Linked DNA regions of Homo sapiens: all the other regions are reported to be linked to region 1. Evidence: microRNA targets listed by miRTarBase, many of them from high-throughput screens and not tested one by one. Region 1 holds a microRNA gene; each other region holds the end of a gene's coding sequence.

Region 1 (5,143 bases):
TGCCCCCCTACATCCCACTCAGGCCCACCCATTAGTTACTCCTCAGTGAATAAACAAGGATCGGCTAGCTCTTTCATAATATTTCACCTATCTGCCACCTTTTCCCTCCTCCCCAGCTCCACAGCTGATCTCTTTGGCAAGTTCAGCCAGGCTTAAAACCCCTGTGGGGATAGTAAATTGAGCCAAGAGGGAGGAGCCCCGAAAGACTTCCACTTCCTGTGGTTGCTTGGGCCTTTGAGCACTCCCCCTTCCACTACTGAGCTCTATAATCTGAGCAGTTGGTGGGTGTTTGGAAACATGGCCTTGGCTCCACTGCTGGAGTCAGGGAGCTCAGAACACTGCAGCAACCTGCCAGTGAGAGTCTGGGTTGCTTTGAAGCCTGAGTCTCCCAAGGCAGCTCCCTCACCTGTTCCCCCATGTCCACCCCCACCTGCCATCCAGACAAGACTATTACCCTAAGACCAGACCTTCTAAAGGCGTGGCCACAGAATCATCAGTATCCCAACATCTTGCCTTTGTATCGTGTGTTTACATACTTTTCCAAATACTTTGTTTTTTCTTTTTTTTCTTTTTTTAATTTGTGACAACCTTGAAAGACAAACAGAGTTAAGGCAGTCCAAAAAATAATTACAGACAAGAAAACTGGGGCCTCTGGAGGTTAAGGATTTGTCTGAGGCTACTCTCTGGGGGCTCTTCCTCCAGGCCTCATACTGTGTTCCTTATGTCATTACCTGTTCATCAGAACCGACTATGCAGTAGTGACCAGAGCAGGAAATGGAGGTGAATGTGTTTGGTTACAAAAATTCCCGGTGAAACTGGCTAGTCTTATGATGAGCTTTGGCCTATACATTGGACACTTCCTGGGTGAGGCCCAAGATTGGCCCCAGGATTACTAAATAGTGACTATAAGTTACCCAGCCGTGTACAAGTCAATCTGCACAAACCAAAAAAGCATGATTTAAATTCATTTTAAACCTCTGTCCCATGTTTGTTATTTTCTGTAGATTCAATCAAATTATCTTAAGGAAACAAATGAAGTGTCAAGCTATAGGGGTTGACTTAATCTAGTCACTCACTCAATGGAACCTTTTTCAGCCATTGCAAATAATAATGATAGAGAATATACAGAAACCTGGAAAATGCTTATGATATCAACTTAAAAAAAATCAGGGCCACAAAATCACATGGACACCATGATTGAAAAATAGGAGCAGAACCTGGAGGAAACCTGCAAAACAGACATACTTGTTACTTAAGGGTGGTGGGATTAGAGCTGAAGTTTCTTCTTTCTCTACTTTTTCATGGTTTTGTGTGTGTGTGTGTGTGTGTGTGTGTGTGTGTGTGTGTGTGTGTGTGAGATGCCACGTTTTCTTGTTATGTTGTCAAAATATAATTCTCTAAAAAGTCTTTAGGGGTCATGGGTGATACAGAAATTTGGGATCGGTCAAGGATGCACAGATCTCAGACATCTCGGGGATCATCATGTCACGAGATACCAGTGTGCACTTGTGACAGATTGATAACTGAAAGGTCTGGGAGCCACTCATCTTCATAGCAAAACATGTGGTAAGTATTACAAGACGAATCAATGAAAAGATCAGGAGGAAAGTGGGCCCTAAGCAAAGAAGAAAGGGGTTGCTATGGGATGGGGTGGGAGGATGAGTTGTGTTTTCATAGGAGTGTAATGGGAATGCCTTTATTTGTGTCTTTATTGCTTTAAATGTTTGTTGAATGAATTGAAACTTACATAAGGTATATGATTTTATACTTGTGCTAGAATGCTAAAATAAAGAATTTATGCTCAAGCAAACAACTGGAAAACACTTTGCTATAAGCATTACAGACACAGGGTCATTTTTAGTATGTTGAGTCCACACAAGTGGTCAAGAAAAACCATAAAAACTACATGAACAGAAAGCCCCAGTTAAAAAAAATGCATAAAGATGCTCATTTCAATATTTTAAGGATGGAAGTTAGGAACATCCTGAATGACCAACAACAAAGGATTAGACAAATAAAATACAGCGTAGCTAGCTAGTACAATAGAATAGGATGCTTTCATGTAAAATAATGTTTCTGAAAGTAATTTTCATGTCATGAGAATGTGCTCCTGATAAAACATTTAGCGATTGAAAAAAGGTGCAAAATATTTTCCCATCTCTGCAATATAGGTATATAGGGAGCATTCTGTATGAATAGTTTTGTATCAACATACAGATAAAAGGCTAGGAGGAAACATATAAAAACTTTATTGTGATTATCTCTGAGTTGTGGTATAAAGGTGACCAAAGAAAGATGCTAAACTATTTTTGCGATGTGTTCCTAATATGTAATATAAATGTATTGGGGACATTTTGCATTCATAGTTTTGTATCAATAATATGGGGAAAAGAGGCTATCAGGAAGTATACCAAAAGTCTAGAGGTGGTTATCGCTGACTTGTGTCACTATAGGCAATCAAAAACGATACTAAACTGTTTTTGCGATGTGTTCCTAATATGCACTATAAATATATTGGGAACATTTTGCATGTATAGTTTTGTATCAATATACAGATGAAAAGATGGAGGGAATAAGCAAAAAATCTAACAGCGGCTATCTGTGGTTTACTTCTGTGATAAATGTAAGATGCAGAATTATTTTTGCAATATGTTCCTGAATATGTAATATAAGTGTATTGGGATCATTTTGCATCCATAGTTTTGTATCAACATATGGAGAAAAGTCTAGGAAGAAATATACCAAAACTTGTAACAGTATTATAGTATAAAATTATAGGTAATGTTTGTTTTTCTCTTTATACTTTTATGTATTTTCCAAGTAATATTTGCATAAACAATAAAATGCATTGCTTTTATAGCAATAATAAAACATTTTATTTTTAAAAAGAGTTTGTATTTTTTTTAAAGCATGAACCCCTGACATAAGGGTGGGGGAAGACTTCCTATTTGGCCAGCAGTGGGCCTAGAATACTTTTTCAAACATATCTGGGAAACCTTTGTACAACTTCAGTTGGATCTGCAGTGCAAATGTGTTTTCATTTGCTCTTGGCAAAGAAAAGAGAAAGTATAACTAAAAAATATAACCACGACAGAGTTATAATAGTAATATTAGTAAACAAACTGCTATCTATGTCTAATCAAAGTAACATTTAAAGAAGTATAGAAAGCTGAAACAGGCTCCTTTTCCTCTAGTAGCAATTCAGGAAGGTGGTACTTGGATGCTCGCCCAGGGCCTCAAGACGCATTGGCCAGTTTGAGATATGCCCAAGTCAGGAAAACACCTTATTTAGGTTATTTCCACTCAGCCAACTTCTTGCAGATGCGGGTAAAGCCCCCCCTGCATTTTCCCGCAAATTCAGCTGAGCTCCATAGTAACTCTGGTGTTGCAGAACACATGTGACACCTCAATTTAGGCGATCCTTGTTCTGGTAAGAGATGGAACCATTTGGTCACGTACCTGGCCCATGGTCTGAAGGGCACCTACCAAGGTTTTAGCGTTCCTCAGTGGCACTGATTTGGACAGAGACACATTACAGGAGGATCTAAGTTCCTTCCTATCTTTTTAGTAGCATTTTGGGAAACTGTTCCCCCACCAAGGACATATTTGGCACTCTAGCAAGTCCATATGACTAGACATTACTTTCTTTTTTTTTTTTTTTTTTTTGAGACGGAGTCTGGCTGGCTCTGTCACCCTGGCTGGAGTGCAATGGTGCGATCTCAGCTCACTGCAAGCTCTGCCTCCCAGGTTCAAGCGATTCTCCTGCCTCAGCCTCCCAAGTAGCTGGGATTACAGGTGCCCGCCACCTTGCCTGGCTAATTTTTTTGTATTTTTAGTAGAGACGGGTTTCACTGTGTTAGCCAGGATGGTCTCGATCTCCTGATCTCGTGATCTGCCCACCTTGGCCTCCCAAAGTGCTGGGATTACAGGCGTGAGCCACCGTGCCCGGCCGACATTACTTTCAAAATAGATCCATCATATTCCTTAAAGGAGAAGCTGAGTTGTGAGGCAAATATATATACACATATCCATTTACAAAGATACAGGAGACCATTCCTCCAATTTTCTGATGCCCTGCCCTTGTTCTGCTTAAGAACATACAATCATACAACCAAACTGGTCCCCATGCTTAAATGTGTGTACTCCTCTTTAAGGAGCATAAGCATTTTTATCTGCCACACTCTGTCAATCAGAGCATATTTACTGGGTGCCTACCTCTGTGCTAGTTACTTGTGGATAGAGGAGCGGGTAGGGGAGAAGCGGAGGTTAAGGTGATACTGAGCCAGAGAGGCCTTGAACACACGAATACTTTGTCTGCCACTGGGTACAGAGCAGGGATCAGCTGAGGCTTTGACCTTCGTCTGAGCCAGGTCAGACCACACAGAGAATCTGCTTTGCTAAGCAACCATCTAAGTGGCCTCCTTTCCCCTAGGGCTCACTCTAGTCCCTGCTGGACAAAATGTATGGAATAGGGGCAGAGTGTGGGAGGGACCCCTTTCTAAATGGGAGGTCTCGCCTCTAGGGCTGAGAAAGAGAGAGAGAGAGAAATCATTCCAAATTGAGCATTGATCTTAAGCCCCTTTCGTTGACCAGTGAAAAAAAAATCTTCAGCCCCTGAATTTCTTTCTATATATGTATATATAGAGAAAGACAGAGAGACAGGGTCTCACTATATCGCCCAGGCTAGTCTTGAACTCCTGGGCTCAAGCGATACTCCCACCTCAGCCTCCCAAAGTATTGGGATTACAGGCGTGAGCCCCTGCGCCCGGCTGAATTTCTGAACCAGTGAAATGTCCTAGAATTTGGCCAGTACAGAGATTGCTTCTCAGAGTTGGAAGTATGCCAAGAGGGGTTGAGGAGGGGCAGGTGCAGAAGGTGCTGAGGGCTTCCCTTTGTTAACAGGGTACAAACCCTCATTTTACACAAGTCCAGCCCCTCATTTTACAGAAGAGAAAACCAAGTTGCAGAGAGAGAAAATAAGTTGCAGAGAGGTCGTGCAGAGAATTGGGCAATGTTACAACTTGAACCTTGAGCTTCAGGGCTTTTTCCATTGTAATATACTGGGTCTAAAGGACACAGGGAGTGACTTGGAAAGACTCTATGAAGGATATGGGACTTGATGAGCACCTGCAAAAGTGGGTGG
Region 2 (5,096 bases), not on the chromosome of region 1:
GATAGTCCTCGGACAGAATCACAAAGCCTCCTTCAGCAGAGTTCCTCCCCCTTCAGAGGACATCCTACACAGTCTCCAGGATACAGTTATCGAACTACTGCACTGAGACCTGGAAACCCCCCCTCTCACGGTTCTTCAGAATCATCCCTCTCTTCCACGTCCTATTCCAGCCCCGCCCACCCTGTGTCCACAGACTCGTTGGCCCCATTTACGGGGACACCAGGGTATTTTAGCAGCCAGCCACATTCTGGAAACAGCACTGGCAGCAATCTTCCAAGGAGGAGCTGCCCTTCTAGTGCTGCTAGCCCTACCCTGCAGGGACCCTCAGACTCGCCAACCTCAGATTCAGTTTCTCAGTCCAGCACAGGAACTCTGAGTTCCACCTCCTTTCCTCAGAACTCTAGGTCGTCATTGCCATCAGACTTACGGACTATCAGTCTGCCCAGTGCTGGGCAGTCAGCTGTCTACCAGGCCTCCAGGGTATCTGCGGTTTCCAATTCACAGCACTACCCACACCGTGGGAGTGGGGGTGTGCACCAGTACCGACTCCAGCCACTGCAAGGGTCAGGAGTCAAGACTCAGACGGGACTTTCCTAGGGCTTCTGGATTTGGGCAAACAGAACTGAATGAGCCCATAGCTGCTTCCTTCCAGCTGCCTCTGGAACCTAGGCCGAGCATATTGCTGAGGAACGGGGGGTACAAGGTGCCAGAGGATTGGGTCTGGTGGACAAGAAACAAGACTTGTGGTCACAATTGGCCTCTGGCCTTGGAGAAAGCTGTAAATCTTGTCTGAAGCAGAGACTATAAAGAAGTTTCTCCCTGCTGTCAAGGGTACATTGTTGACAAGCAAATGGTGTTTCGGTTAGTAACGGTTCTAAGTGCAATGAGTTGTGTTGAAGCCTCCGTCTCCCATCCTTGCCTGTAGCCCGTAGTCACTTGTGCAGTGAGGACATCTTTTTAAATTTAAAAAAAAAAAAAAAAAAAGTTTTCAAAGGAAAAAAAGTTAAAAGAGCCAATCTCAAAGCCCCAAGCCATCTGAGTACTGTTAGGGTTTTATGCACTTAAGAAAAAAGGTAGGTATGTAAATGTTCATCCTAAGACAACCATTCCAAAAGCAGGTATCTGGCCAATGTGTGTCCACCAAGAATACTGTTTATCTTTGTCTTAAGATCACCAAGAAATAGGCAAGGATAGTAAAGCTTGGAACCTGCACCAACTGGAGGGTGCCTGGCTCTTTGAAGAAAAGCTCATGGTCAGCTCTTGATTATTCGGGAGCAGATTATTTGAGTAGATTGTCTGAGCCTCCAACTGTTACCATCCTACTCCCCCTTCCCAAGCTATTTCACAGCTCAGTAACCCATGAAGTAAGTAGACAAGAAAAGGAGGAATGAGACATGATATAGGCCAATTGCATTGCTACTTACCAGCTTTTGGCAATAAATTTCATTAGGAAGGATACCGAGTGGTTTGGGAATGCTTCGAATTTTATTTTTTCTACTCCCAATTAATCAGGAGTTGATGATCCCATGAGCAGGACCGCCTCCATGATTGGGGAGCATGCACTTGTGACTGCAGGGTAAGAGTGGGAAGATAGGTTTGTGGAGTGGCACCGACAGGACTGTGATTGTGTGTGGGCCTGCCCCACATTTCTCTGGGGGATGCTTATGTGAGAGTGGGCCCAGTGAAAGAGTTACCAAGCCACCCACACCCCTAACACTGTTCTGGATGAGAGATGAGAGCAGACCGGCTTCTCCCCATCAGTGCATTGTGCCTGTTGTACACCCCTGGAGGAGCCCTGGAGCCAGCCCAGGTGGGGTACACAATCTTTTTAAATTCCATATGGTTGCCAGCTTATTTCTTTCACTTGTTTACTGTAATATCTGGCGTGTTTTTATTTATCTAATTTTGTATTCAGTTATAACCATGGTAGGGGTAGTGAATATATGACAGGTGTAATCCCTGGTGCTGCAGTGGACCTTCTTTTCTTTTGGACAAGATAATACTGTGAGTTTCCCTCCTTCCTTCCCTCTAATTTGTTTTCCTTTTTTCCCCAGCCTCTTGCATCCCCTTCTTTTCTACCCTGTCCTACAACTATCATATGCACAGTCTTCTCTCTTTGTGTGTGACTGTTACAAAATTTCACTTTTCAAAATCGAAATCAGGTGTTTGCTCAAATGAGGGGAGATTTTTTTTTTTTTTTTTTTTTTAAATGCTGAGACCTCAGCAGAGTACTTTTCTTTTTGTTGTTTCCCCCACAAACCCATCAGTCTGGGAGAGCATTGGGAGTGGAAATCATGTTGCCTGGGATGCTGGTTTCTTTGTATATTATATAAAACGTATGTAAATGTCTCTCCATTTGGGCTGGGGTTTGCATTCTCCCCTTGGCTATTTAACCAAGGGGAGAGGCCAGCGGGCAGGCGGCCCTCACCCTGCCTGGCACGTGCAGAGACCCCAGCCACTCTGTGTGGGCAGGGTGCTGTCAAGACCAGACCTCTTGGGGGGGTAGGGGCGGGGGGGTGGGGGGAACTCTTGGAAGGGAAGAAGTATCACTTCTTTCTCAAGTGGAGTGTTTACACCTTGCTGTAACATTTGAACTTTCACAAGAGATGTAATAATTTTGATAATAAAATTCTTAACCATAATAATCATAAAGTTGAGAACTTCTTTGTCCAATTTTGTGGCCCTGCCTTGCCTGGTTTTCCTAATGCCATTTTTATCTGAGGAGAATGTGCCCTTGGTGGAGTTGTTTTGCCCATGATAATGGGGCCAGGAATACTGTCTGATCTTCCTTCGCTTTTTATGATTGCAGTCAGGACAGTGTGAAGGCAAACCTGCAGCAGGGCAAGTGAACATTAAAAACTGCCTTGAACTTGAGTGGTGTTCCTGACCTTGGCCTCATTCATTCAGCAACTATTTATTGGTCTTTTTCATTCAAAAACAATGCTGGACATTGTTTTTGGTGCTGGGCTTATGGTGATTAGAATGCTGATTGGGGGTGGGCAAAGTAAGGTCTCTTCTTTCATGGAGTTTACATTCTAGTGGAGGAGAGAACTAAACTAGTATATAATTTTAAATAGTCATTGCCATGTTAATTGTTTCATAGCAGATATGTGACTAAGACAGTTGAAGGAGCCACTCTAGATTGGTTGGTCAAGAAAAGTCTCTGAGGAGTTGACATTTAAACTGAGACTTCAGTGACAAGGAGGCAGTCCTGGGACGATGTGAGTGAAATTCATTCTTGAACGTTGCAGACTCTGTGGTAGAAAAAGCTTGGTTAAGATGTAATAAATGGATGGGGCTGGGAAAGAGGATAGAAGATCCTGTAAGAGGGAGATAGGGGACAGATCATGTAGAGCAGGAGTCGGCAAACTCTTTCTATAAAGGGCCAGATAGTAAATATTTAGACTTTGCAAGCCATGTATGGTCTCTGTCATAACTATTCAGCCCTTTGGCTGGGTGCGAATCATGCCTGTAATTCCAGCACTTTGGGAGGCCCAAGAGAGCAGATCACTTGAGGTCAGAAGTTCGAGACCAGCCTGGCCAACATGGCAAAACCCTGTCTACTAAAAATACAAAAATTAACCAGGTGTGGTGGTGCGCACCTGTAATCCCAGCTACTCAGGAGGCTGAGGCAGGAGAATCTCTTGAACCTGGGAGGAGGAGGTTATAGTGAACCAAGGTCACTCCACTGCACTCCAGCCTGGGTGATGGAGCGAGACTCTGTCTCAAAAAAAAAAAAAAAAAAAAAAAAAAAAACAACTATTCAGCTCTTCCATTGCAGTGCAAAAGCAGGCATAGACAGTATGTGGCTATGTTCCAATAAAACTTTATTTACAGGAAACAAGTGGCAAGTTGGATTTGGTTTGCAGGCTGTAGTTTGCTGGTCTCTAATGTAGAACCTTGTAGGTATAATTTAAATAATCTGCATTCAGTAAGTACAGTGGAGGAGTCATTGCAGGATTTTAAGGAGAGAAGTGACATTGTCTAATTTATATTTGGTTGATTTTTAAAAATTACTCTGATTGTTTTGATCCTGTTGGTGAAGAGATGAATAGGAGCTGAGAAACTGGTGTGGAAGGTAGAGCAGTTGTTCAGGCAAGCAACAATGCAGTGGTGGCTTCTATTAAGACGGTAATGATGGGGATAAGAAGTGATTGGAGTCAGGATATGTTTTGCAAGTACACAGCAGAACTTGCCAATGGATTGAATTGGCAGTATTCTAACATTTGTTTGACAAATGTTTACTGAGTAACTAAGGTAGACTGCAGTTTGCAAAGCACATAAGGGATTCAAAGATGAAGATGCTATTTATTAGTTGAAGGAGTTTAGAAATGGAAGGCTGGGCGTGGTGGCTCATGCCTGTAATCCCAGCACTTTGGGGGGCCAAGGCAGGCGGATCACAAGATCAGGAGTTTGAGACCAGCCTGAACAACATGGTGAAACCCTGTCTCTACTAAAAATACAAAAATTAGCCGGGCGTGGTGGTGCGTGCCTGTAATCCCAGCTCCTTGGGAGGCTGGGGCAGGAGAATCGCTTGAACCCAGGAGGCAGAGGTTGCAGTGAGCCGAGATCGTGCCACTACACTCCAGCCTGGGCGACAGAGCGAGACTCCGTCTCAAAAGAAAATAGAAAGTGGAAACATAACAAAACCACTTGTTTTATTAGAAGATCCCTCCAAAATGCCCTAGGAATACCTAGGTAACCTACCACCAACCACAACCTGATTCTACCTGGGTTAGGAAGAGAATAGTGTGCATGATCTTTAGAAAGTGTTTCCATATACAGTGTCTTATTTTGACTCATAATTCTGTGAAGAAAGCAAGCCAAATGCCAGAAGTTAAAGATGAGAAATTGAGACCTAGTACAGTGTTTCAGCTATAGCACTGGGCTTCTGATAATGAATAAAACTAACTGATTTCTGCCATAATTGGAAGGTTCTGTTCCATGACCATTGGCTGAACACCTACTGTGTGCTAGGCTATATCTGAGGTGCTGAGAATATCAAGGTAAGACAGTCAACTGCCCATTCAGAGTTAACCTATTTGCTATTCTTTTCAAGTACTTACTGTGTTGCTAGGGACTTTGCTTTTGATATG
Region 3 (5,096 bases), not on the chromosome of region 1:
CCTTTCTTTCTTTCCCTTCCTTCCTTTTTTCTTCTCTCTCTTTCCTTTCTTTCTTCCTTCCTTCCTCTCTCTCCCTTCCTTCCCTCCCTCCTTCCTTCCCTCCTGCCTTCCTTCCTTCCGTCCTTCCTTCTTTCTTTCTGACAGGGTCTTGTTCTGTCACCCAGGCTGGAGTGCAGTGGTGCAATCATGGCTCATTGCAGCCTCAAACTCCTGGCCTCAAGTGATCTTCTCACCTCAACCTCCTGAGTAGCTGGGACTACAGGCGTGAGCCGTCGCATCTGGCCAAAGCTGGGGTTCAAACCCAGGCAGTCTGGCTTTCAGGAACAGTCTCTTCTCTCCAGCTTACTGCTTCAATAATATCTCTGTTAGATTTCTAAAGTGTGCCGGGACTGCATACCATAGGTGCTCAATAAGTGTTTTTTAATTTTGTTTGGTTTGGTTTTTTTGAGATGGAGTCTCGCTCTGTCGCCAGGCTGGAGTGCAGCAGCACAATCTCGGCTCACTGCAACCTCCGCCTCCCGGGTTCAAGTGATTCTCCTGCCTCAGCCTCCTGAGTAGCTGGGATTACAGGCCCGCCACCTTGCCCAGATAATTTTTGTATTTTTAGTAGAAATGGGGTTTCACCATGTTGGCCAGGATGGTCTCAATCTCTTGACCTTGTGATCCACCTGCCTCGGCCTCCCAAAATGCTGGGATTACAGGCGTGAACCACCATGCCCGGCCACTCAATAAGTGTCTAATGAATAGGGACAGAGGTAGAAGGTGAGCCTTGGAAAGTACAGAATTCAGACCCCAGAGAAGTGGGGTAATAAGGGCCCAGGGGCAGGGGAGAGATGTGGTCAGATTTACCCTTTACATAGGGATAGGCACACAGTAGGTGTGTGCTCATAAATTTTTGCTGAATGAAGGACAGGAAGAAGGGAGGGAGGAAAAAGAGACAAGATAGCTGGTCACAGCTCTTCCAGGTGTGAGAGAGAGAGAGAGAGTGTGTGTGTGTGTGTGTGTGTGTGTGTGTGTTTTGGGGGTGGTCTGTGAATGCCATGGAGGAAAGCTGGCCTAGGGGGCGTCATGGCGAGCATACACAGAGGCTCTGTGAAAGGTGGCAGTTGTGCCAGGGCTGGCGGCTCAGCTAGGAATGGTGTGGGCCCTGGAGTCTGCTGGCCAAGGTGGTGTGGCCTCCTGGGGTTGAGCCTGAGGGTGGAGCAGCACACCAGAGCCAGGGAGCCTGCACAACCCATCTGGGGGTGACACATGGGGAGAGAGGGGCAGGTCCTCACACATGAGCCATTCATAAACCTGAGGGCACCGGGCAGACGGGACCAGGGCTGATGTAGCCCATATGGTGCTTTTGTGTAAAAGACATGCCCCTTCCTGGAGGTACTTGACCTCCATCTGCTGGGAAACTTGTAATAAATATGTAAATGCAGGGTACCTGGAACACCAGTGGCAGCCCCTTACATACGGAGCCTATATGCAGTGCACAACCTATGCAACTGTACCTAGAGGCTCTGGGGAGAGGGGCCATCAGTGGCAAAGCAGGCACAGGGGCAGACGGAAGGATCAGCTCACCCCATATTGGGCCTCGGAGACATCAGAAACAGGTCCTTAGCTGGGCACAGTGGTTTGTGCCTATAGTCCCAGCCACTCTGAGGGCTGAAGCCAGAGGATCCTTTGAGCCTAGGAGTTCAAGGCTGTACAGCACTATGATCACTCCTCTGTACAGACAGTGCTCTCCAGCCTGGACAACACAGTGAGACCCAATCTCTTTGAAAAAGCGGGGAAAGGAAAGAATAAGAAACAGGCCCACGGGAATCCCAGCACTTTGGGAGGCTGAGGTGGAAGGATTGCTTGAGCCTGGGGGTTCGAGACCAGCCTGGACAACATAGGGCAACACTGTCTCTACAAAAAATTTAAAAAATCGGCCGGGCATGGTGGCTCACGCCTGTAATCCCAGCACTTTGGGAGGCTGAGGCAGGGCGGATCACTTGATATCAGGAGTTCAAGACTAGCCTGGCGAACATGGTGAAACTCTGTCTCTACTAAAAATACAAAAAATTAGCCGGGCATGGTGGCAGGCGCCTGTAATCCCAGCTACTCGGGAGGCTGAGGCAGAATTGCTTGAACCCAGGAGGCAGGGGCTGCAGTGAGCCGAGATTGCACCATTGCACTCCAGCCTGGGCGACAGAGCGAGAATCCATCTCAAAAAATAATAAATAAATAAATAAATAAAAATAAGAATAAAAATAAAATCAGTTGGGCGTGGTGGCGTGCACCTGTAACCCCAGCTAATTGGGAGGCTGACGCGGGAGGATTGCTGAAGCCCAGGAATTCGAGGCTATAGTGAGCTATGATCGCGCCACTGCACTCTCCAGCCTGGGCGACAAAGCGAGACCCCGTCTCTAAAAAAAAAAAAAAAAGAAAAAGAAAAGAAAGAAACAGGCCCGCAGAGTGTTGTAAACAGAGGGCGTTCATGATCCCTCGACCACTGGACAGATGTCCGGGGAACCCAAGACGGCGGCACCGCAGAGCCCGACTGGGCACCAGGGGGCGGTGCTGAGCTCAGCCCAGGCGCCCAAGTTTTGAGTCTGCGGCAAAGCAGTCCGAGTCCCATTTGCCCGGGGCTGGAGTCACTCGGGGTTGGAGTCAGGCGCCTGGAAGACCCTCAGCCTGGACGACAGCTCCCCGCAGGCCATTTTCACCCGCTTCCGCGGCCCGCCTCATCCACTTCCAGAAATGGGCACAACTTCCTCTGCTCCTCCAGGAAGCGCCACTCTGCCCGCCCCTTCCCGGCCCCTGGGGCCGACCCAGGCTCCCCATCTGGCCCAGCTCCACTCCTGCCTCTGCCTCCCCGAGGCTTCTGGCCAGAAGCGAGGCTCTGGGACCCCACGATGGCGGCGTTTCCCTCACTCAAGGCCCCGCTGGCCCCTCGGGTCACCGTCCAGCCCCCTGCGCCTCTCTCCATGCGCACCCGCAGTTTTCACGGTGACACTCCCTCCCCTCCGTGCACCCCCCCTCAGGCTCCGCCCTGTCCCTGCGGCCGTCAGGAAGGACGCAGCCTGGGTCCCGTGCCAGGCCGCTGAGTGTGCGGCCCCTCCCAGCCAGGCCTGGAATGCGGCTGGACCGCGGGGGCGGCCGCTGACACCCGGCGCTCCAGCCAGGCCCAGCACACGGGCAGGTGGCCCCAGCTCGTCCGGGTCTGGGTTTCTTCTAGAAGGAAGGCACAGCTGCCTGCCCTGAGCTCCCTCTCTGCAGTCCAGCTACCAAGCCTAGTGGCTTTATTTCAGACACAGCTCCAAGCGTCCCTATCCTTTGCCCAGAGATTTAAGACCAGGAGTGAATTTTATTTTTAAAAATGGGCTGTTGTCCCCCTTTCCTCCCCCATTTTCCTGGAGAGCCGACTCTCAGGGCTCCTTGGAGAGGATCTGTCCAGGGTCCAGGTTTTGTGTTTTTATTTCGGGACCATTCTGAAAGCAATCTCCCCTTCGCTCCTCAATAAATACAGGTAGACTCCAGGCGAGGACTTGCTTTCATTTTTAAAAAGTTGCCTTGACTTCCTGCTAGCAAAGAAAAGAAATAAAATTTAAGAAAAAAAAAAAAAGGCCAGGCACAGTGGCTCACGCCTGTAATCCCAGCACTTTGGGAGGCTGAGGCAGGCAGATCACGAGGTCAGAAGATGAAGACCATCCTGGCTAACACGGTGAAACCCTGTCTCTACAAAAAATATAAAAAATTAGTCGGTCCCAGCTAATTGGGAGGCCGAGGCAGGAGAATCGTTTGAACCTGGGAGGTGGAGGTTGCAGTGAGCCGAAGTCACGCCACTGCACTCCAGCCTGGGCGACAGAGTAAGAATCTGTCTTAAAAAAAAAAGAAAGAAAAAAAAAAAGTGGCCTGGTAGGAGGATCGCTTGAGCCCAGGAGTTTGAGGCTGTAGTGAGCCATGATCAGACCACTGTACTTCAACCTGGGTGACAGAGCGAGACCCTATCTCAAAAAAAAAAAAAAAAAAGTTCATAATTTAAAACCCACCTCAAGTGATAATCTTGGAACCTTGGTTTTCTCACCTGTAAAATAGGGATGATAATACTACCGATCTTGTAGGGCTGTTATAGGATTAAATGAGTTAACACAGTGACGTGCTTAGAAACTGTGCCTCGTACACAGCCTACGCCCAATAAAATGTTTGATGTTTTTATCTCGCCTTCACATTTGCCCAGAGACAAAGCAGCACACGGATTTGAGATTTCCCAGGACTGGCTTTAATTTGAAAAATCTGATTGGGGTCTCTTCCCGTATCAGAGAAGGAACAGCCCAAGCTATGACCCCAGGGCCAGGGAATTCAGTCCCCACCAGACCCTGTCATTCCATCACTAGGGGGTAATTCCAGGCTCCCCCTGCCAGCCCTGAGACAGGAGGACGGATGTGAAGTTGCCCAGGACTAGATTCTGTCTCTCCAAAGTGGCCCAAGCCCTGTTCTCTGTACTAGGGAAGCCAGCTGTGTCTTTTCGAGGACAGTTGGTCCAGCCAGCAGGCTCAGTTCAGATACCAGACAACCATTCCAGCACGAGGGCTCAGCGCCCTGGCCCCGGCGGTCGCTCCAGTGCCTGTGTGCCCACCAGCACATCCATGAGGTAGTCCAATTCGGCCTCGTCCAGCTCCGGAGCTTCCTCCTTGCCCGGCCCATCCTCAGGGCCTGGTTTGAGGCCCTCAGAGGCTGGTGCCCAAAGTTCATTGTCATACATAGAGGTGTCAATATCCTCAAACAGGCCCTCAAGCCCATCGTCCAGTAGACAGCCAGTGGCTGGGCCCAGCAGGTCCAAGGCACCCAGGCTGGGCGCTGCTCCCCCGATGCTACGGCCTGGTGGCCCCTCGTCTGCCAAGGGTTGGGGAGCCTGACTCAGGCCCTCAATGTGGCTGAGGTCCTCCAGGAGGCTGGCCATGGAGGCTGAAAGGGCAGCGTCCGAGCTTGCCAGTAAGTTGTCAGCCACACTGGGGGCTGCAGGTGGGCTAGGCACAGGTGGCAGGGCAGCCGCGGGTGCCATGGACGCCTGGATGCGCCGCAGAGTGTTCACGACCAGCACCAGGTGCCGCAGGTCCGGC

The links. Region 1 holds the annotated microRNA hsa-miR-450a-1-3p (AUUGGGAACAUUUUGCAUGUAU, at 2,514-2,535, shown strand). A microRNA usually pairs through its seed, bases 2 to 8, with sites in the 3' UTR of a target mRNA and lowers its output. Matches are read on the target gene's strand: a 7mer-m8 pairs with bases 2 to 8, a 7mer-A1 pairs with bases 2 to 7 and ends in A, and an 8mer does both.
Region 2: the mRNA of SETD5 is a reported target of hsa-miR-450a-1-3p. Seed matches in the 3' UTR shown: 7mer-m8 at 1,330-1,336.
Region 3: miRTarBase lists SERTAD1 as a target of hsa-miR-450a-1-3p. Seed matches in the 3' UTR shown: 7mer-A1 at 3,636-3,642.

Annotation. Positions count from the first base shown.
Region 1 is chrX:134,537,750-134,542,892 of GRCh38, reverse strand. It overlaps MIR450A1 (microRNA 450a-1), which reads left to right and starts at 2,462; the gene lies at 2,462-2,552. MIR450B (microRNA 450b) reads left to right here and starts at 2,631; the gene lies at 2,631-2,708. It overlaps MIR450A2 (microRNA 450a-2), which reads left to right and starts at 2,286; the gene lies at 2,286-2,385. It overlaps MIR542 (microRNA 542), which reads left to right and starts at 1,456; the gene lies at 1,456-1,552.
Region 2 is chr3:9,475,495-9,480,590 of GRCh38, forward strand. It overlaps SETD5 (SET domain containing 5), which reads left to right. Exons shown (of 23, transcript NM_001080517.3): 23 at 1-2,660. The coding sequence ends at 597. Among named protein-coding and RNA genes, the nearest start is that of LHFPL4, 76 kb to the right of the region's middle.
Region 3 is chr19:40,418,269-40,423,364 of GRCh38, forward strand. It overlaps SERTAD1 (SERTA domain containing 1), which reads right to left. Exons shown (of 2, transcript NM_013376.4): 2 at 3,321-5,096. The coding sequence ends at 4,568. Among named protein-coding and RNA genes, the nearest start is that of SERTAD1, 5.2 kb to the right of the region's middle. RefSeq lists enhancers at 2,425-2,925, 2,591-2,710 and a silencer at 3,001-3,090.